Linked DNA regions of Homo sapiens. The protein of the gene in region 3 interacts with the protein of the main gene of each other region in a pairwise test. Each region holds a gene or a part of one and is shown on either strand. Other genes may lie near its edges.

Region 1 (7,026 bases), on a different chromosome or scaffold from region 3:
TCCAGGCAATAGAATTCTTAGTGGTTTTAGTGTGGGAGAGGCAGCCAAGAAAGGGAAGCTTGAGTTAATCATCTATGTCTATGCATGGTACCACTTCCTGGGAGGGACACAACTGATGCTTGACACACAGGTGCCGATCAAAGATTTTTCTTAGTTGTTGCCAGAACATGATTGAGTTAGAAACCAGTGTGGCCTGGGACTGGGAAGCTCATTAAAGGAATTGGGACTTAAACTGGGAAGGGCAAGTTGGCTCTAGATCCATAGAAACTGAAGACAGGGGCAGAGAGAGATGGTATTATAGATGGAAGAAGGGGCAGTGGGTCATGGAATAAATATTGGTGAGCAGGGGAGCAAACCAAAGGGGTAATTGGGAGATTCTGAGTTTTCAAGGCTATTAAAATGCAGTTCCAGGCCCTAGGGAGGAGAGTTCCAGACTGTTTTCTCTACACTGCTATAATTCCTTACACTGCTGGGAGCAGTTTCTTTGACATACTTTGCAACTGCAGAGGGCTTTTAGGAGAGCCGAGTTTTGTTTTTAAGTAACAGATCACTTCTTGATCTCATTTTTACAATAGTTAGCTCCCCCTTTCACAGTATGTTTCATTCCCCCTTCCTAGCCAAACGGCTAATCTTGGAATAAGGCGGAGGGTCCTGCCCTCCTCTCCCCATCCTAGACAGTAACTTCTGAGGCACTTCTTCCAGGCGAGCCAGCCCTTCACACAAATCACAGGTGCTGACGGGACAGACCCAAGTGTATTATTAGATAAAAAGAGCTCTGTCCACCGGGCGTGGTGGCTCACACCTGTAAACCTTGCACTTTGGGAGGCCGAGGCAGGCGGATCAGGAGGTCAGGAGTTCGAGACCAGCCTGACCAACACGGTGAAACCCCGTCTCTACTAAAAATACAAAAATTAGCCAGTCGTGGTGGTGGGCGCCTGTAATCCCAGCTACTCAGGAGGCTGAGGCAGGAGAATCGCTTGAACCCGGGAGGCAGAGGTTGCAGTGAGCCGAGATCACGCCACTGCACTCCAACCCAGGCGACAGAGCCAGACTCCATCTCAAAACAAAAAACAAAACAAAAAAAAAAGAGCTCAGTCTAACAAAGATCTACCTAAGACCCTGTCAGGGCCACAGAGACGGAAAAAATTCCAAGTCAATCGAAATAACTAGGAAAGAATGCCTTGTGCGGATCATACATAGCACAGTGGTTCCTAGTAGTGAACAGGAGGCAGGATCTAGAGGGAAGACATTGAAAATCGCTCAAGGTCTAATTAAGAGTAACATCTCCAGCGCTTGATTCTGCCCTTAAAGCAGAGTAGGAGGGTCATCTCCCATCTTTCCTGCGGTGTGCCCCCTCCCTGAGCCAAGGGGGGGCGGGGGTGTAAATTTCCCCCAGCTCCTGACCAGGGGGCGCCTGGGGGCAGGCAAGATGGAGGCCACGGCTCCAGGCAGCTTGGCCAGCATGCTCTGGGGCTGTCCCCGCCCCTAGGGGCGAGCAGCCCTGGCGGCTCCTAGAGGCGACTGGTGGGAAGTCTGCCCCCTATGGGGGAGGCAGAGGACTGCACTCTTGTCCAGGGCTGAAACTGTCCACACAGCCATCCAGGAATTTCAGGCTGAGCGTGTTTGGGCAGAAGGGAGGACACCCAGCACTGGCATTGGGAGAACTCCAGATTCCCTACAAGCCCAGAGGCCTTTGGTGTTAGTATCCTGAGACTGTTAGAGAACTTGAGGTCCTGGGAGGACCCTGTTATTTTTATATCTCTGTTCATCTAGAACAGTGCTTCCCACCCGCTTCCCTTTTTCTGTATGTTAACCTAAATCCCCTGGTGTCCAGACACATCTGTTGCTCCTTAATTTAAACAAGTAAAAACAAAAAACAAAAAAAACCTATATTCTTCTGTTCAAAAGGTTCTCATTTTCCCTGGGCAGTTCAAAATCTTCACAGTTTCACTTTGCTTCCTATTAAAGATTAGTTGGTATCTGGAATTGAAGACCATGAAGGCATAGGCTCTAATCTAACATAACCCTGGAGCTGGGCTTGAGGGGCCTCTGCAGATTGGTGCTGTTTTCCCTTGGAAGATACCACAGTGTAATTCCTGGTAACAGATGTGACAGAGACATGCACGGACCAGCATGGGCAACCACAGCATCACTGTTCCCATCTTCCTGCCCTGTTCCAAAAAGCAAAACAAGGGAAAGTTGATACACTGGGGAAGACCAGATTATTGATGAGAAGTTGTTTTCTGAGCTAAAAAGTGTTTCAACATCCCACACTGCCTGATTGGGTTTACCATCTCATTGGCCTATTTTCCATACTATAGCATAGTGGGAAAGGTGTCTTCCATCTCCCTTCCTCATAACCCCTTAATGAAGATTGTTTCCAGCTGCTGCCAGCTGGGGTGATGCTTGACACACAAATCAAGAGTTAGCGGTGGCTCTCAAAGTGTGAAAGTATAGGAATCACCCTGGGAGCTGCACGCTGGGTTCAGATCCGATGTTTTCAAGGCAGGGCCTGGGCATGTGTATTTTCAACAGTCTCTGCAGGTGACACTAACATACCTCAAAATTAACAAACCCCTGGCGGAGGTCATGCATTGTCTCTGTATGGACTGAGCTCAGCAGGGAGTAGACCTAGCAGAAACCGCTCACTGTAATTCACCAGAAACTCCAGTACTGAGCACCTAATGGGGGCCAGGCTCTGTGTTACGCACTGAGGGTACAGAAGTGACGAAGTCGCAGCCTCCCTGTCCAAAGAGCAGACAGGCTAGTGGGGAGTAGATCTCTGAGTAGTGGGGTGAGGCCTGATGGAAGGGTCTATGGCTCAGGTAAAAGGCCCTGGCCCCTGTATCTTATTAAAACAATTACATGTCAGTCCCAGAATCGCCTCTCCTAGGGAAGGGCTTCTGGCTTGTAAGCTCAGATGTAACAAAGAAGGACACAGTGATCATCTCCAGAACCCACTAGAGGCAAGATAAGGCAAAATGGGTTTCAGTTCTCTGTCGTCAGGTGACTTTTGCTTGCACAGGTGGTAAAGTGAATTTTCTTATTTTCTTTTTTATGTTTTTCCTTGAGGTATATCACAGAAAAATTCTCGAGTCTAAAGTGTACCCCTTGAGGGATTTTTTTTTCATATGCATACACCTGTGTAACTACTATCCACATCAAAGAGGGGGCATTCTTGAGGTAGAAAAGACCTCACAGTGGGGACAAGTACCTGTTCAGCTTTGAACAGACTAAAGTAAAGCCTGAGATCTCAGGGTACAGCTGCTCTCCTTGGCCACGCGTAAAATTAACCCCTGAAATTAACAAGTGTCTGGTGAGTATCTGCAATGTGTTGGAACCTTTCCAGGTAAGTTCCAGGGCCCCTCAACTCTTAAGTCCTATATGGGTGGTTTGCAGTTTTAGGAGTTGAATTTCAAAAACAGAATTTGTGTTGACCCTGTATAATCTCCATCTGCTTTTCTTAATTAGCAATTGACCAACATCACCTTCAAAGGGCTTTTGTAAACTTCTCAAATTTCTCTCACTGTAAATCTTGCCAATAACTGAATTCATGAGGGAGTGAATTTGGGGCCTTTACTTGGGAAGGGTACCTCCTTTCTGCCTGCCTCAATTTGCCTTCCTTTTCCTTTAATATTGTATTTTTATTATCTAGGGCAAAAAAAAAAGCATACTATTACATTACAGCTTATAATGGCAACCCCTGAAGAAAACAGCAATCCCCATGACAGAGCAACACCCCAGCTGCCAGCACAGCTGCAGGAGCTTGAGCATCGGGTGGCCCGGAGACGGCTGTCCCAGGCCCGCCACCGAGCCACCCTGGCAGCGCTCTTCAACAACCTCAGGAAGACAGTGTACTCTCAGTCTGATCTCATAGCCTCAAAGGTATGGGGACCTGGAGGAGGAGAGGGGACATCTCCACGGGGAAGGAGACGTTTTCACAGGTGGAGGGACTGTGTTGCAAGGCAGGGACTGGCCTGGAGCTGCCACTTCTGCTGGGGTAGCGACAAATGCCCTAGACAGGGTAATTTATAAACAACAGAAGTTTATTGCTCCAGGTTCTGAAGCCTGTGAAGTCCAAGACAAAGGTGCCATCAGATTGGGTGTCTGGTGAGGGCATGCTCTCTGGTTCATAGACAGGGCTATCTTGCTGTGTTCTCACATGGGGGAAAGACAAACAGGTTCCCTCAGGACTCTTTTATAAGGGCACCAATCACCTTAATCACCTTCCAAAAGCCCCCACCTCTTAATACTATCATATTGGGGATTGGGTCTCAACATACTAAATTTTGGGGGGACACAAACATTCAGACCACAGCAGGTGGACAATCATCTTTCCACCCTACGAACAAGCCCAAGATGCTGGAAATCAGTCAGCCCCTGGTTCCAAGTCTTTGCTGACCCAACAGCATCAACATGAGCTCTGGGACTGGGGAGAGCAAAACACATAGGAGTGCTCAGGGAGCTTGCAATCCACTGTATCATCATGCAGCTGCGGTTCCCTTCACCTCCTCTTTGGCCTGGCAGAGCACTGTGACTCCAGCCCCCTCAAGTCTCCTTTTTAGGCACCACTAGAATCCTTGGAATCTAGAATGTCAAATCCCAGGCTACTCTGCCCCCAGCTGCTTTGGGGTCCCCCCTCCATGCCCACCCCACACTCTGGCCACATCTCACTGCAGCAGTTCCCTGAGCCAGGCCTGCCTCTCATGGCCTCTGTGTCTCTGCTCATGCAGTTAGCTCTGCCTTTGGGATTCTGTGCACACTTCAAAGCTGGGCTTGGCTCACTCTGCTCAGCTGCCCTGCTCCATGGAATCTTCTGGACCCCTCCAGTTGGACTATTCCCTCCTCCTTGTACATTTTCACAGCCCTTTGCTTCTACCCCTTGTTAGTACCTACTTAATTCTATATTGTGTTATAAGGGGTTGTTTCCATGCTTGTCTTCCCTGTCAGAGGTCAGCACCCTGAGAGAGGGGACTGTCTTATGTACTCTGTATCCCTGGGACTTACCACATAGTTTTGCCCTTGTACATGCCCAAGGGATGCATGCAGCCCCTGACAGATATAGGTGGTCAGCCTAACAAACAACATTTAGCATTGCTCGTTTTTGAATAATCTTGCTGTTACCATTTTAGCATTGCTCGTTTTTGAATAATCTTGCTGTTACCATTTTGACTTTAATAATGTTACATACAGGAAGTAAGGAGGGAAGAAGGAAGGAAGAGAAGAGGAGGAAGGAAAGAAAAAGGAAGGAAGGAAAGGAAGGGAGGGAGGGAGGGAGGGAAAAAAGGAAGTTGGAAGGGAGGAAGGGAGGAAGGAAGGAGGGAAGGAGGGAGGGAAAAAAGGAAGGAAGTTGGAAGGAAGGAAGGGGGAGGGAGGGAGGGGAGCAGAAGGGAGGGGAGGGAGGGAGAGAGGGAGGGAGGGAAAAAGGGAAAGAGGGAAATTTAGAGTTCAGGTTGACAGCATTTGATAAGTTTTTAGATCATCTGGAGCGTATGCAGTTAGCAAATAAAAATAGTGGGAGAATAGGACATTTAATATTAACTAGCCCTTTGCACAGGGTTACCACTGAGCTGAAGTCTAGCTCTGCTTTGTGCAAGCCTGGGGTTGACGTTCATGCAGAATGCGCCTCTTCCATCACTCCTTATTCCACCTTCAAGCCGCCTCTGTAGTCATTTGCCTTTCTACAGCACTAGCAATTTGCTGAACAAAGCTTAACTCTTTCCAAATCCTTTGGCATTTCGGTGAGAACCCACTTCTAGGCTACAAACAAAACTTCCTGCCTCCTGTGCATCAGAACAAACTTCCTATTCTTTTTACTGACAAGGTTAAGGGATGTGACTTTGCATCTGAGGGAGCGTGGCCTCAGCCCTGGGAAGGGATTCCTGGGTCCACAAAATCAGTCTCTGCAGTGAGAGGCTGGCTTTCAGCATTGTCTCTGTCTATCCTCAGTGGCAGGTTCTGAATAAGGCAAAGAGTCATATTCCAGAACTGGAGCAAACCCTGGATAATTTGCTGAAGCTGAAAGGTAATGGAGCACTACTTGCCAACCCCATCTCCCTCCCTGGAGAAAACTGGATCTGTTTTTCTATTGAAAACAGAAGTTGGGTTACAATGAATCAACAAATATTTATTGAGGGCCTACTGTGTGCCAGGAACTGTGCTTGGGCCAATGTTGAGGGTCCCTGTCCTTAGTGAGCCTGCAGTCCAGCAAGACTGGCCAGAGTCACCAGGCCATGAGACTCTGATGAGTTCCCTACTGGAGTGCTGCCAAAGGCACCTGATCTCATCTTCAGAGGCCAGAGGAAAAGTGGGCTCCTGCTTGTCTAAGGCTCTCCCTTCACACCTAGAAGGAAAAACTGGACCCTGGTCTCCCTAATGCTGACCCTGGAGGGTTCAGGGTCCCACCCACAGCCCACCTGGGCCAGAAGGGTGGGAGAGACTCAACAGAGGCCTGACTTTTCTCTTTGTGTTCCTGGTCTTCAACTCCCCAATAGCATCCTTCAACCTGGAAGATGGGCATGCAAGCAGCTTAGAGGAGGTCAAGAAAGAATATGCCAGCATGTATTCTGGAAATGACAGGTAAGACACCACAAACCCCAGGAAGCTGGGGACCTGCTGTGTCCTCACAGCCATCAGTACTGTCTGGTGGCAACTCACCCTTCCTCTCCAGCCTGCAGGACCATCAGGGCTGCTGCTCACCATTCAAAACAGCCATATGCTGGAGACCATTCGTTTCTCTTTTATTCTAGCAACATGCATCAATTTTTTCCCAATTATAAAAAGATACATGCTTATCACAGAAGATGCAGAAAATACACAAAAGCCAGAAAATATATATTGTCCCAGAACTCAAAGAAAATCAATGTTAATTTTCAAGAAAATCCATCAAGTTTTTAAAAAATGTTGCACATTATTCTTTAGAGAAATGAGCCCATAGTGTTTACATTATATTATAGCTTTTTCTATATGTATTTTTTAAAGCCACAACTAATGTCTTTCTTGGAGGATACATATGACAATCAGGAA
Region 2 (7,428 bases), on a different chromosome or scaffold from region 3:
TCAGGAAGCCAAGAAGCAGGAGCTCGTGTGGGGGCTTTGCACTCCTTACTCAGGAAAACAAATCAAAACCCAAAGCCAAGACTCAAAAAAAAAGCCAAGCACGGTGGCTTACGCCAGTAATCCCAGCACTTTCGGAGGCCGAGGTGGGCAGATCACCTGAGGTCAGGCATTCGAGACCAGCCTGACCAACATGGTGAAACCCCACCTTTACTAAAAATACAAAAATTAGCCAGGCATGGTGGCAGGCACCTGTAATCCTAGCTACTCAGGAGGCTGAGGTGGGAGAATCACTTGAACCTGGGAGGTGGAGGTTGCAGTGAGCTGAGATCGCGTCACTGTACTCCAGCCTGGGCAACAGAGTGAGATTCTGTCTCAAAAAAAGCCAACAACAATAAAAATAAAATAAAATAAAATAAGGAGAAAAAAAACAACAACAAGATGGGCAAGTTCCCAGAAATCTCTGATCCCTACCACTTCTCTCCTCTCTGTCCTGGTAAGGATCGCCAGGGAGGGCTGGGGAGGGGAGATTAGTTCTTCTCTTACCTGCCATAGTTCTGCCTCCTCTTTGACTCCTCTGAGGGTAGAAGTTCTATTACCCTGAGAACAGAAATGGAATTGCTTTTGAGAAATCCAGGCTGGTCTCACCCCACCCCTCCCACACCATCAGTGCATCAGCCAATGTCTGGGGTGGGAGCTGGAAAAAGCTGCTGCCCCCAAGAGCTTTTCTAACCCACTAATGGCACTGATTAGTTTCCTGCAATTCCCTGTCCCCAGCAAAACCAATTTCCCAGAGACCAGGGAGTGGGTAGCATGCTACCCAGTTGGTAACATTCCCAGGTAAAGGGAACCATAAGCTGAGCCTGCACACTGTGCTGGTGGCCTGGCCTCCTGGTGGGACCCCAGACCTGATTACCCTGCCCAGAACATGAGACACAACCCTCCCAAACCTGAGGAAATCAGACCCATTCAGGATCCTTTCAGCTGTGTAAGGATTCAGCTGTGAAAGGATTTCAGCTGTGAAAGGATTCAGGCTCCTTTCAGCTTGCCCCATTGGCTTTGGAATGGGAATTCTCCAAGGACATTCTTTGGGCCTCCTGGCTCTTCCCCCAACTCTGAGATTTTCTGGCAGGACACTGAAGCCCTCTACTTCCCACGCTCCACCAATCTAGAATCCTTCCAGTCACAAGGTCTGCAGGGGAGAGGCCTCAAATTTGCTGCTCTTAAGCTCTTCTTGGCCCAGGCCTGTAGGATCCCCATAAATCCATCTGCTCCCCTCAGAAGCCAGTGAATTATAGTGTCAGGTGAATAGGAGTATTTTCCATTCTCTCACCACCACCATCTCTCCTGATTTCCTCTTAATTGCATCCATCTGTTATGGCCAATGGGGAGTCCCACACAGGAGAGGAAGGGGGTTGGGTCTGGGGTGGGATGAGAGCCATAAATCAGGGAGGGGGGATGTCTTGAAAGAATCTTCCAGCAGTCCCACCCTCTGTGCGATTGGCCCATGGCCAAGCGGTTCCATTTTGGGGACTCCATTTTCTGCCCAAAGAGCCTTATCATTAATATAGAATCACACATGACAGAGCAAATTCCTCTCTCCCATGGAGATCATTCCATTTCGCAACGGCCACCCACTGGCACTTCTGACCCCTGGCAGCCCCTCGCCAGCCCAGCCGCTGCACCCTAGCGTGCTGGAATGCCATGGTACGCCAACTGCGTTCTGGAGTGGTCACGGGTGCCACAGGCACTACGCCGAAGGGAGTCACGAGGAAGGGTGGGAGGGAAGGCAGCCACCAACGGATGAGGACCCAGCTGGACACGGCCAGGGGGAGGGCTGCAAGGGCCCCCATCCCACCCACCCCTCAGTGCAGCCTCCTGGTAGATGCAAGTGCACTGGTGCCAGTCGGTGACCCCCACACTGGAGTAGTTTGAGTTCAACACAGCTATCTGAGTCATCATCCCCATCGTCACCCACATCATCACCACGAGCAGCTATCATCCTGTTACTCAGCTATTGGTCACACATGAAGAAGGATGACGCTGATACCACTCTTCTCCCTCCAGCCTCCTGCCTACAGCTCCCAGCAGAGGAGGGCAAAAGAAGCAAAGCTCTTGGGGGAACTTAGGGATGTGACGTTAAGCATCCACTTCTGGAGCTCCACTCTCTTTTAGAATAAGCCAGATTTGGTACAAAGTCAATGACACAGGGAAAGAGATCTGTTGGATTGGAGACTAGAGGGATGTAGTCTCAGTTGGAAGGGATGAGAAAGGAAATGAATTCTCTCCTCCATAATTCATTCCCACATTTGAGAAGAACTCCAGTTCTTCCCAGAAGGAAACAGCAGTTTGTGTCCTCACTTCAGCTGTCCCAACAACACTCTCAGCACTGGATCCTGGGACAGTCCCTCCCTGCCCCCTCTCCAGGACCTATGGCTCCCCATCCTTTTTCCCTACCCTCCCCGGATCCATCCTGCACATCCAGGTCCCTGCTACCTCCAGTTGGTCCCTGCTACCTCTCAACTGGTAGAAATTGAGGCAGGAAGAGCCAAATGGAGTTCTCTCAACTGCTTTGACCATGATACTAACCAAAATATAACAAGTCCCAGCCCGAGGTCCTTATTCTGGACTGCTAGTGATATTTTTAATCTGGTCATCGTATCACACCCAAAGTCAAGCCGTGTCCAGAAAATTAGAGCCAGGACAGAAATGCCCAGACAGGACACACTGAAATTCTCTCCTCCAGATATCCTGGAGTAACCTAGAGGGGATACAGGTGCACCCCAGCGTGTGATCCGCCAGCCAGGGAATGTTCCCCAGGCAGACATCCTGCCCACTGCCTGCCCCTTCCTGCGTAGAAAAGCTGGACAGCAGGCTAGTGTCTCCATCCTGGCCCTACCCTGGCCCGGGTGGGCAGCCAGGTGTGAGCACCCACTTACCTGGGTGTACAGCTGACCTCCCGCTTCCTGTCTGCTCCCTCTTCCCCGTTTCCAGCTGCTGCTTGCTGAGGCTCTGGATTGACTGGTAGTGGACAGGCAGGGCTGGAGCAGGTGTCGGTTGCTGCAGGCGCCTCTGCTCCCTCTGCCCCTCCCACTCACCCCGCCTCCTCCTTCTCCTCCAGTCCAGGCTTGGCAGGGCAAGGCCCCCAGGGCTAACATTCTAGCTCAGAGGAGGTCAGAGATGGAAGGGTCCTGTGACATCAGTCCATCCAACTCCTCGCTTTGCAGAGCTTTAAGCTCTTAACCAGACTGGCTTAGTGTAAATTTGCCCCATGAAGCCTCATTTATACGACCCTTTTTAGCAAGGACATTTTCATCATCCAAACCCTTAACTTTTCAGCTAAGCTGGTCCCTTGGGACCTTTGACACCATAAGTCACACAGATACATAAGCCACTGCCCTCTTGGGAATCACACCTCCAAGTGGTATCAAACAGGCAGCAAACTTTGGGAGTGGGAGGGAAGGCAGCCATTAACGGAGTCACAGACACAGAGTCCACCGAGAGTGACCAGGAAGGAGGAGACCCTGGGAACTGTGTAGTCAGCAGGCCTGCTGGAGAAGGTGAGCTTGCTCAGGAGCTTTTCAAGGAACAGAAGGGGTGACCTGACCAGCAGGGTTGGGGGCGAAGTCGGCAGGGCAGATGGTTGGGTTTTTGGTCGGACAGATGGATGGCAAGTGGAAATTGGAAATACAATGGCTGGTAACAGATTTTCTTAAGGAGAGTGGAGGGCAGGTGAGGCCCAGGAGATAAGGCCACCTGGTGTGCTTTGAAAGAGCCACCTTCTCTCTCCTTAAGGACAGAGAACTGCTTTGTTGCCACCCATAAGCGAGGCTTGATTGAGGATTCAGGTGAAGTAGAAGGGAAATGGGGTGAATGTTTGCATCCAGGGGAGGACACTGAATATTTACATGTGTTGATTAGCATCTTGCCAATTTCTACAGGCGCTACCTCTGGATGTGCTCCGAGAGGGGAGGTGTTTGACCTCTTCTGCGCAAGTACGTGTATGTGTGTGCATGCATGCACACACACATACATTTGTGTGTCCTCCCTGTGTGTTTCTGAGTGTCAGGGCTGGTCTTTCATTTGTTCAACAAACATGTGTTGAACACCTACCGTGGGTTGAGCCCTGGCTCTGGCACTGTGTTAAGCCCTAGGAATACAAAGGTAAGCAAGTGACAGGGCCCTCCCATCATGAAGTTCACAGTCTAATGGGGCAGGTAGATGTAGGGGCTCCAAAGGAGACAATGGAGAGTGTGAGGGGAGGGCTGGACCTTGGAGAGCAAGGGAAAGAGTGGCAGTGAGAGTTGAGTTTGGACAGGTAGGCTTTGGGGGCCATTGAAGAGTTTTGATCTCTATTGTAAAGGTTACTGAGGTTTGTTTAAGCTGGAGGGGTGACAGGATCCAATCTGCATTTTAGAAGAACTCATTCTGGCTGCAGAAATGGAAGGGATTGGAGGAAGGAGAAAGTGAGAGGCAGGAGTCTACCTCCCAGGAGTGCAGTCCCAGGAGAACACCCTAGGGTGTTCTTTCTCATGGTGGGGCCCTGAGCTCCAGGGGCCTCCTGAGCCACAATGCTGCATCATTCCAGGAGGGGGAAGGAGGAGGCTGCATCATTCCAGGAGGGGGAAGGAGGAGGCTGTGAACATGGCCCAATGCAGAGCCTTTAGCATTTCACGTGCCTCTGTTGCCCCCCTAGACAGCCCATGTGCTCTTCCCTGGGGCCTGGGGATGGCCTGCAGATCCACGAGTCAAGGTGTGCCCTGCTAACTGGCCTCCATTTTCCATGATGTTGTTGTTGTTTCCTAAACAGAGATGAGATCTTGCCATGTTGCCCAGGCTGGTCTCAAACTCCTGGGCTCAAGTGATCCTCCCATGCCGGCCTCCCAAAGTGCTGGAATGGCAAGCATGAGCCACTACACTCACCCCATTTTCCATGTTTTAACAGCAGCCCACATTAGGGGACCTACTCCTCTCTGCGCTGTGTCATACATGGATCCCTATCGTTGCAATAAAATGGAAATTTCGGGACTCCAAGGAACTGAGAATGAGTTACACAGTTTTTACCACTCTCCCCACTTTATCCTCTATCAAATGTAGTGTCCAGTAATATTTAGCTATGTCTGGATCGCCAGCCATCCACCACCACTTCCCAGGGTATAATCTTATTACACCTCCTGATAGACTTTTCCTTTGGGAGATAAAGAGACAAGTCCTGGCCGGGCACAGTGGCTCATGCCTGTAATCCCACCACTTTGGGAGGCTGAGGCGGGCAGATCACAAGGTCAGGAGATTGAGACCATCCTGGCCAACATGGTGAAACCCCGTCTCTACTAAAGATACAAAAATTAGCTGGCTGTGGTGGCATATGCCTGTAGTCCCAGCTACTTGGGAGGTGAGGCAGGAGAATCGCTTGAACCCGGGAGGCGGAGGTTGCAGTGAGCTGAGATCGCATCACTGCACTCCAGCCTGGTGACAGAGTGGGACTCCGTTTCAAAAAAAAAAAAAAAAAAGACACAAGACCTTACCTTCATCGATTAGGGGAATATCCATGTCAAAAGAACTCTGGGCAGTGAATTTGTGTGCATTATTCATTGTTCCTCAGTGCCTTATGGAAAGGGCTCAGGGACTTTGGGTAGGGATAGGTTCAGAATTCATTAATGCTCTCCTGTCCCCACAAGAACGAAATGCATTATATGGCAGGTACCAAGAGGCTCAGGCCCCATAAAGGCCTCTCTTGGGACCCTTTTACTCCTGATGGCATGGGTCAGATGAGATGATCTCTGAGATCCTGGCCAATTTGAACCTTCCACAGTCCTGTGACTGAATGGGGAAGGCCATGTGGACTTGAAAAGCAGTCCATGTGACTCAGGAGAGAGTTTAAATTCATTCACAGGCGTTCATTGCCTCTATGCTTGGTGTAAAACTGGTTCTGTCCCAGCTGGGTGAGTCACTGAGGGTGCTGTCCAGGGGAGGGTGTCCTCTCTTGCACCCAATGGGGTCCATGTAGATGGGTTAGCAGAGGAAGATTCTAATCAAAGACATGCAAACATGCTCACACACAAACATACACATACACCACACAACACCAACAGAGCAGGTCTTTGTGAAAGGTAGAAGACTATGAGCTGCCCTGTGGAGATGTCTTCAGAGACTAGGGGCCTTCTCTAAGCCTGGAGCTAGGGCATAAGATTCTATTTCAACCACAGTCCCTACCCAGGAAGATGGAGCTGGGAGGACCAGTGGACAAACAACACCCCTCCTGTGCTTCCTTCCATCCTCCTTGGCCACGGTCAAGGATGCCCTCCAGTCCACCTGCTCCCTTGAACCATCCACTCTGCCCCCCAGCTGCCTGCCTAGCCGATATTCCTCCCTATCTCCAGTCCAGCCCATGTGTCAGCCTTAGTTCATGTCTTTCTCACCTCACCTGCAGTGTAATGAATCCCATGTAGCCTCATGGGAAAGAAGACCTTGGAGACCCCAAGGGTAATTTCATGTTTGCAAAGCTGGCTTTCAGTGACAGAGAAACTTGAGTCAGGAGCCAATCCCTAATCTGGAAGGGCCTAGTCCAGCAGGCTCAGCTGGCGCAAGGGCTACAGGAGGGGGTCCTTTGGACCCTCAATGAGGAGAAGCTGGGGAGGAAATCCCACTCCACTTTCCAGGAATGGCTGAGCCACAACAGGCTTCAGTCTATTGAGGCAGTGTAGACTCTCACAGAATGTCAGAGCCAGACAGGACCATTGAGGGCATCTAACAACAGCAATAACATTATAGCAGTAACAACAGTATTTAACCCTGATAGAGTTCTTGCTACATGCCAGATATTCTTTTGAATCTTTAGTTATGTTAACTCATTTAATCCCTCACAACAAATCCAAAAGGCAGAATTGATCACTAACCCCATTTTACAGAAGGGGAAACTGAGATACAGAGACATTATGTAACTTGCCCAAGGTCACACAGCTAGTGAGTGGCAGAGCCAGGATGTGGACCAAGGCCATCCAGTGCCAAGTCTACACTCTTAACGACCAATGTCCTGTGGATCCAATCCAACTCGCTTCTTTTCAGATATGGACACTGGGGCTTGGAGAGAAGTGGTTTCCTCCTGGAAGGCACACAGTGAAGTGTTTTGCAGCCAGATTCGCCTCCTCGTGGGAATGAAGCACCAAACCCCAAGTCATTCCAGAAAGCTGCTCCCTTCAAATCTCCATCAGGTGGTGAGGAGGTAAATAAACCACTCCAGCTAAACAGATGCAAACCCACTCAGGTTTCTAATGTTGCATTGTCGTTTTGCAGGGACACTTGCCTATTTTCATATAATCAGGCAAATCACAGTACTCACAGGCCCCCAACCTACTGTGTGATGTTTTCTACATGGGTTATTTCATTTAGCCCACATAACACCCTATGACGTAGAAACATATCTCCATTTTA
Region 3 (7,359 bases):
TCCTGTCACCAGGCTGGTTCCTGGGGGCAAGAAAGGTCTGTGCAATTTCTAACATTCATTGAAATTTTCTGTGGAAGCTAGAAGTGTGCTCAGTGCCTTGAGAAGAGTGGGAACTTCTCAAGAATGATGGATGGCTTATAGACAGGAATAAATACATAGTCGATGCGTAGAGGCAATGTGTGTTGTGTAGGGAGCTGGGGATGGGAGATGTTTCTGAGAAGTGACCACCAGTCTTAGTGGAGTAGTGTCCCTACAGGAGGGAACCCTGGAGTTGTCAGAGTCACCAAGAAGGTTCTTTGCATTTTGATAGACTGCACAAGGCTTTTGAAGATTCAGTGGAAAATGGAATAGGAAGGAAGCTGATGCCTAACAGAAGCCATCTTCTCCAGTAATAGTTCGAAGGGACTGACCCCAAGTGCTAGAAAAAAAGGAAATGGTTTTAAAAGCATTTTCTTTAAATATTGCCATGAAGATTGTGTTTCAGGTTTAGATTTACATATTGTCAGATTTTTAAAAGAGAAAAAGGTATATCTTTAACAGACAAGTGAAACCTCCCTCAGAAGGTAAGAAGCAGTCGTTGCAAAGCAGTTCAATGTAACAACATGGAAAGCTTTGCAAAGGGGCCTTCACTGGAGCTGTAGTTCTGCTTTTATGAATTGTGACTTCAGGGAGGAGCAGAAAAAAACCATGACAAAAGCAGGTGGAAGAAGAGATGGAGAAAAGTTTGCAGAAGTAGAGGAGTTCACTTGCTGCTTCAATAGAATTGTTTTAAATTGTTAGTGGCTGAAAAGGACTGAATCTGCCTGTGCCATCTTTGCGAGAGTATTTACTTTTCCAAATCATTGTATCCTCTATTGACTCCTTGCTAATCAGTTAGGTGATGTGACTTCCAGAACTTTATTTTGAAGACTTATTCCAATATTCATTTATCCGAATGATGAGTCCACAGTTAGGATCTCCGTATTTTCCATGAAAAGCTTATTTAGCCTAGCTGGCTCTATACAATTCATTTAATAACTGAAACATTTATCTTTTTTGCCATAAAACCAAGACCAATATTTGCAAGGTATATAGATGGATGATCATTACTGGCATTTCAGGTGGAACCTGAAAGATAAAAATTTAATAAAAGCAAAGGAAAAATGAAATTAAGTTCAAAACCTGTTGTAAAGTCTTTGTTTCTCAGTTTATATACCCAGTTTGCCCCTTGTGTTTTTGGTGTGTGCTAATTAAGTGCCAAAAGTGGCCTTCAGTTAGTGCACTAGTGTACTAGTCTATAAGATGTGAGGGCACAGAAACTTTCAAAGGAGAAGCAGTGAAGTGTAAACTAGTACCCAGAACTACAAAATGATGCCGAGAAGTACTTCTCTGAAATTAAACTCAGGAGCATTTTTAAAATTTACCATCACAGTTCTATACTTATAAAAGAAATGTTTCTTTTCTCCCTAAACAGATATGTTCCTGGTAGTTAAATGTGGATGACTAGCCTAATTTCTTATAACTGTTCTAAAGTTATGTTATATGAAAGTGAGAGGCAGATCTTCTAAATTCTGGATGAGGCCCTCAGAGTAGGATTATTTTAAATGGGATTTTGTTTTGAGACAAGATCTCACCTACATTGGAATGCAGTGGTGTGGTCATTGCTCACTGCAACCTTGAACTCCTGGGCTCAAACAATCCTCCCATCTCAGCCTCCTTAGTAGCTAAGACTATAGGCATGCATCACCATGCAGGGCTGATTTTTTCATTTTTTGTGGCGATGGGGGTGTCGCTATGTTGGCCAGAATGGTCAACTCCTGGCCTCAAGTGATCCTTCTATCTAGGCCTCCCAAATTGCTGGGATTACAGGTGTGAGCCACTGCACCCAGCCCTTAAATGGGCTTTTAAATCTCCCAAAGAGTGAGAACAAAATTTACATATTCACTAAACACTGCTTATTCAATGACATGATTTGAAATAATATTTTATTGAATAAATATTTCAAATCATGTCATTGCATACTGAAGGGAGCTGACTTCAGAAGTGTGGAAAGTGCCTTTCCTTATCCTCATAGACTTGAATTTCTAGGGCTGGGTAGAGATTGCTGTCCTGGCCTATGTGTGGCTCAGCCTTGGGGTAGGGGGTTGCATAAGGGGAGGGAGAGGGTTAACCAGCTGGTGTTAACCACATTGGCAGCTGTTGAAACTGCCAGCTCACTTTAACTTCTTGGTCAAAGATGCCAGATTCTAAAAGTGGGGGAAGTGGGAGCTATTTGTAATGTGTACATTGATAAGATGTTACAGCCTTCAGAGGTATAAAGAGATGGAAACTATTTCACTCCAAAAACGCAGGTTGCTGGTCTCGTTAAGAGCGCAAACCTTTGTTTGAGCAGGTACAGAATACAGACCTTATGGACTTCAGCAGAATCCTGTCTATCCTAGTGACACAAAATTGTCACTTTGACTTAAATCCTGTTATTTTATACAGAAACACTGCATTTGGTGTAATCTATTTGCTAGAAAATATCCAAGTGTCACAAAAGTTCTGCAAGTGTAACTTCCTGCTTACTTTAATTCAAGAATAGCAGTTTAAATTCACAAATAGCAGTTTAAATTCACCTTAAATTCAACAGAGCTAATGCCTCTGGCCTCCTCTACAAAGATATCACAGGAAGAGATTATTGCAGCTTCTATTTCAATGGCTTTTCCTTAAAGTGAGCACTGAAAGTATAAGTGAGTGGGTGGTTAGGAAACTGTTAGTAGTTAATGCCCTCTCTAAACTGCAGAACTCTGGAAATGAAAAATATCTTCGCTTCACAGCAAAATGTTTGAATGTTATGCCACTCAGGCGCAAACTGAGCAAGACCTGCAGAGGGCCGGTGAGCACAGCTTCCATAATATGTCATTTTGAATGCCATTATAATGAGACTTTGCAAAGATATCCACAAATAATTAGCTTTTGGCTTAGGTTATACTGTATAAGACTTTAATTATACTGAGGGTCCAGTAAAAACCTTTTCCATCCTCCTTAAAGATAAAACAAGAAGCGTTGTCTCCTCTATCAACATTTCAGCACAAGTTTAATTTCGATGAGATCATCAATTTGATTGATAACAAATCATTACAGAACAGTTTAAACAAGTCTAAATTTCTCTTGATGTTAACGACTTACAATCGCCTTTATGTTAGGTCTTAAAGCTTTATTATTCTTAAATACAACTAGTATAGTGGACCATTAAACTCCAAAGTGATCTGAAATGATATTGATTGGGGTGGCAGCCAAAATTTTAAGGTGCCTGCCTGCATTGCCTTTTACATCTTGACGCTGAATGCACGTGTAATTTTTAAAATAATCATTAATTTTCCAGTGGAACCATCTATCTGGCCTCTTTCCCTAGTGCTCTTAAATTCTCACCATTTGGGCATACACACATTCTCTTCCAACTAGTATAAATTTCCCTGGTAAATTTAAGTAGTTCCAAGCATAAGCTTACTCCACGGGAGGGAAAGGCTATCAATGTGAAACTTGTGGGCAGAGGACTGCGCCTCCGACCTGGCTGCGTCTCCTAGCTTGGCTTCCCTCCTGCCGGGTCTGCACCGAGCCCCGGCCGGCCCCGAAGGATGCAACTCGTTCGGTCCGGCTCCCAAAGTGCCGTGGACTTGGTGACCCACTTCTCGTGTCGGGCTGAGGCCACGCGGGCAAGGGACTTTTTCTGTCCCCGGCTCACGGCTGGAGCCCCCATCCTGCCGTTCGGACCAGTGCGGGCCTCGGAGGAGTGTCCCGCAGCGGACCCCCGCCCAGGAACCCCTGCAGGCAGCGAGACGGGCGCCCGGGCCAGCTCTCTGCCCCTCGCCCCCCGCGGGGACCCTGCCCGCCCCGCTGACCGGCCCCACGTTGCCAAATAGCTCAAATGCTTGTCATATTTGCGGTCGCGCGGCTCCGCGGGCTGTGCACGCGCTGCACTCGCCGCCGCCTTTGTCACCAGCCGCTTCGTCATTCGCCTGAGCACTTCTAGAGTGTGTAGGGGGCGTTACTAGTGGCAGTGGTGGTCCTCGGGCCGGAGTGTCTCCTTCTGTCTCCCCTCCTCTTTCAGCCCGTCCTTACGAGAAAATCAGGGGCGCGCCGGCCCGGCAGGGAGCTGGGGGCGGCGCTGCCACCAGGCGCCCACTGCGCCCCGCCGCCCCTTCCTGCTCCTCCTGCGGCCGCGGCCGGCCGCGGCCGGCCCCGGCCTTTATCGCGCCTCCCGGGACCGCCGGGGAGAGGCGGGCCGGGGCGGGGCCGGCGGGGGCGGGGTCGGGCGGCCAGGGGCGGGGCCTGCGGCGCCGGGGCCCGGAGCTCGCGGGAGGCTCGCGGGCCGCACGTCACTCCTGCACGGCGAGTGCTGGAGCACGACGTACCGCTCGCTCGGTCAGGGCGCCCCCTCCGCCCGCCTCCTGCTTCCTCCTCCGCTGCCTGCCGCCGCCGCCTCCACCATTGTATAATGCTCGGGGCGCGCAGGCAGAGAACGGCGGAGTCTTAGCTTCAGCCTCGCCTGCTGCCCGCTCCCCGGCGCCACCCTCGGGCCCCTGGAGCGGGGCACTCCGCATGGAGCGGGAGTAGCTGAGGAGTGGGCGGAAACCCCTCCTGATGCGTTAGTTCCCAGGTGGAGCTGCATGTGGTAAGTTCTCCCGGCGTCGGGCTGGAGGGGATCCGCGGGCGCGGGGGGCTCCGGGTGGATGGGGGGCCGGTGTTGGGACTCGGCCAGGGCTGGGAGAGCCCGGAGGGCGGAGGAGGGGCCGGGCGCCGCCGCGGGAGGGAGCCGGGGACGGAGCAGGTACGGGAGGAGCGCTCCCTCCCGCGGCCCCGGTCCGGGCCCCGCGCTCTCGGACCCCCGGCGCCTGCGGGCTGAGCCGCTGGGGGGCAGGGCCGGGGTCAGGAGGGGGTCGGGAGCTCGGAGAGCCGAGCGGCGGGCGGGGGCGCCTGGAGCTGTCGCCTCTACAGCTGGGATGTGTGTGCGCGTTGTGGCGGTTGTGTTGTTGTGAACGTGCGAGACTTTTTTTAAGGCTCGGATTGCTGGCGCGAAGGCTGCTTCACTTTTGAGTTCCGTGGCCGGGTTTGCATCCAACTTACTGTAGTGCGTTTTTGTGAATTTCCCGGTGTTTTTTTTAATAATGTTGAAAACCTTCCTCTCCACCCTCTTTTCTTTCGTCCATGCCCAAATGAATTGATTTGGGATCTACATGTATATTAAACTTAACGTCTCGTTGGTTTTTAAGTTAGAAATCTACAAGTCATCTTCGTGGTAACCGCCTATGACTGAAAGGGAGGGGGCTGAGGGGAGCCAGCTGTCCCAAGCCCTAGACTTTGTACCAGTAAGAGAGGGGGTGTCGTCACAGGGCCACTACATGGACAGAAAATCGTATTTTGTTTTGTTTTCTTGGCTATAAGTTACCTTTAGCAGAAGTGGTAGTAATAGATTGCGATGGGAGTCGAGTTTTAGGTTTAGTTTCTAAGTTTCACGAAAATATCAGGTATAGTTTGCATTGGAATAACTTTTTGCTTGCAAGCCGAGTCGTTTCAGGAGGTAGAAAGTAAGTTTTCACAGACACTGAATGGGGAGGACAGTCAGCAGAGTGAGACAGCCAGCCTCAGACCACAGCAGTTTTTATTTGAATCGAATTGGGCAGCCTCAGTTGGGCTTAGGGTAGAGAGTACATGTTTTCAAGCTTTGTTCATGAAATACGCTTTTTGATTTCCCAATGTATGTTAAGAAATATCCATAATGTGTGTAAAGAGGCTAGAAGTTGTAGTCACCAGGATTCCTGAGGCCCTAAGTGTTCACAGTAGCTTTTTGTAGTTAGAGACTAGTCCCTGACAAGAGTGAAGTGGGCTTTGGGCTTCGCTCCGCCCCTGAAGGACCGTCCACCTGAGAGCGTCTGGGCTGCTTGGCCGATGGGGGTTGGGGGTAGTTGCTCAGCTCAGCAGAAGGCATGTCTCACCCTGGCAGCTCCCATCCCTCCCCCTTTTTATAGCAGTCTATTCTGATATGAGTGTGCTAGGGTGTGCTGTGAAGATGAAAATATCCATCCTAAGATCCCAACTTCTGGAGTGAACAAGAATAGTTTGTTTGTGGATCTCTGCTTTTCTGTTTATTTTTTCAGGGTTTTTTTTCTTTTTATTTAAAAGAGACAAATGTTTAAAAGTTTTCCTTTAGCTTCATTGACTTCTTTAGAGGGGTATTATATGTTAATATAAAATTGTTTATGTCGTTCATTAAGTTTGGAATCCTTTAACAGTTTTTTTTTTTTACTTGTTTCACCCCCTAATTAAAATATACATAACCATGTTGTTCTCAGATGAGAAATCTTATTTTGGATTTGACATCCCCCAACCCCCTTTTTCCTTAACACCCGGCCCTTTTCCTTACTTCATTCAGACAGGTAAGGGAGAGGACTCACATTTTGTAAAGCCAACCAAGTGTATGTGTGACAGGAGGTGTCCTAGGGAACGGTTTTATTGTCAGGCGAATGTCACAGCGTCTTAGGTAACAGCTGCTCAAGCTTGTTTCCCTTGAAGAACTAAGAGAAGGATATTAATTCAGATTTAGAAAATCTTTACACTTCTGTTTGCTGAATTGTCCCTCTTTAAAGCTTTTCTATTTAATTGAGAAGCTAAAATATGAATTTTGCCCAGTTGCTACACACTGAATTATTACTGATAATGAGCCTAGTAAAATAGCACATATTTTGATATTTTAAAACTCATTCAAATTTGTGTGGCGACTGATAGCTTATGGTATCTGCTATTTTAAACAGGGTTCCAATGGCAGAGTAAGTTACAACACTACTTTAGAAAGGCACACACATGCATCACACACAAAAAACATTACAAAACGTATGAAGGCAGTTTGAAGATGTTCGAATGCAAATACATAAAAATTTCTATCAACTTGCAGCATGCTACTTTTATTATCAGTGTCCAATTATACTACAAGTTTACCCTCAGACAAAATATTTTACATTTTAGTAACTAAGAAAGGTGAAAGCTGGAACAGAAACTTTGAGAGGTTTCTTTTGCTGTGGTTTCTTGTTAAAAAGCACAGAAAAAAAAGTATGAAGCTTTATTTTATATTTCACATATATCAACAGAATCAAGACCACTTTGTCAATATTACCTGTGGAAAAAGCTATATATAGATAGGCGTATTTGGGGCCATGAACTTTAATTCACTCATAGAATTTTTAAAGCTTCTTGGCAACAGAAATTTTGTATTCACTGTCATGGCATATCCTATAGGAGATAGCTCTAGTTGCAATAGTTACTTGGTGCGTGAGAGAGAGAGCAAGCGCAGGCGCCGTCTCTGATTACTGAGTCCAAAGATCAGTTGTGTACTGAAGGCAC

What was found.
Region 1: the proteins of SERTAD2 (region 3) and STRA8 interact in binary tests that used the Homo sapiens proteins (3 or more experiments, as listed by UniProt).
Region 2: the proteins of SERTAD2 (region 3) and IGFN1 interact in binary tests that used the Homo sapiens proteins (3 or more experiments, as listed by UniProt).

Annotation. Positions count from the first base shown.
Region 1 is NC_000007.14:135,236,832-135,243,857, forward strand, and holds part of STRA8 (stimulated by retinoic acid gene 8 protein homolog), read left to right. Parts: intron 1-2,168; exon of another isoform or gene 2,169-3,687; 5' UTR 3,688-3,693; coding exon 3,694-3,885; intron 3,886-5,949; coding exon 5,950-6,025; intron 6,026-6,494; coding exon 6,495-6,579; intron 6,580-7,026. UniProt on the Homo sapiens protein: Meiosis-inducer required for the transition into meiosis for both female and male germ cells.
Region 2 is NC_000001.11:201,186,416-201,193,843, reverse strand, and holds the start of IGFN1 (immunoglobulin-like and fibronectin type III domain-containing protein 1), read right to left. Parts: upstream 3,021-7,428; 5' UTR 2,937-3,020; intron 598-2,936; 5' UTR 551-597; coding exon 544-550; intron 1-543.
Region 3 is NC_000002.12:64,650,897-64,658,255, reverse strand, and holds the start of SERTAD2 (SERTA domain-containing protein 2), read left to right. Parts: upstream 1-4,342; 5' UTR 4,343-4,636; intron 4,637-7,359. Other genes in the region: uncharacterized protein LOC124907776, read right to left, coding at 3,545-3,976. UniProt on the Homo sapiens protein: Acts at E2F-responsive promoters as coregulator to integrate signals provided by PHD- and/or bromodomain-containing transcription factors.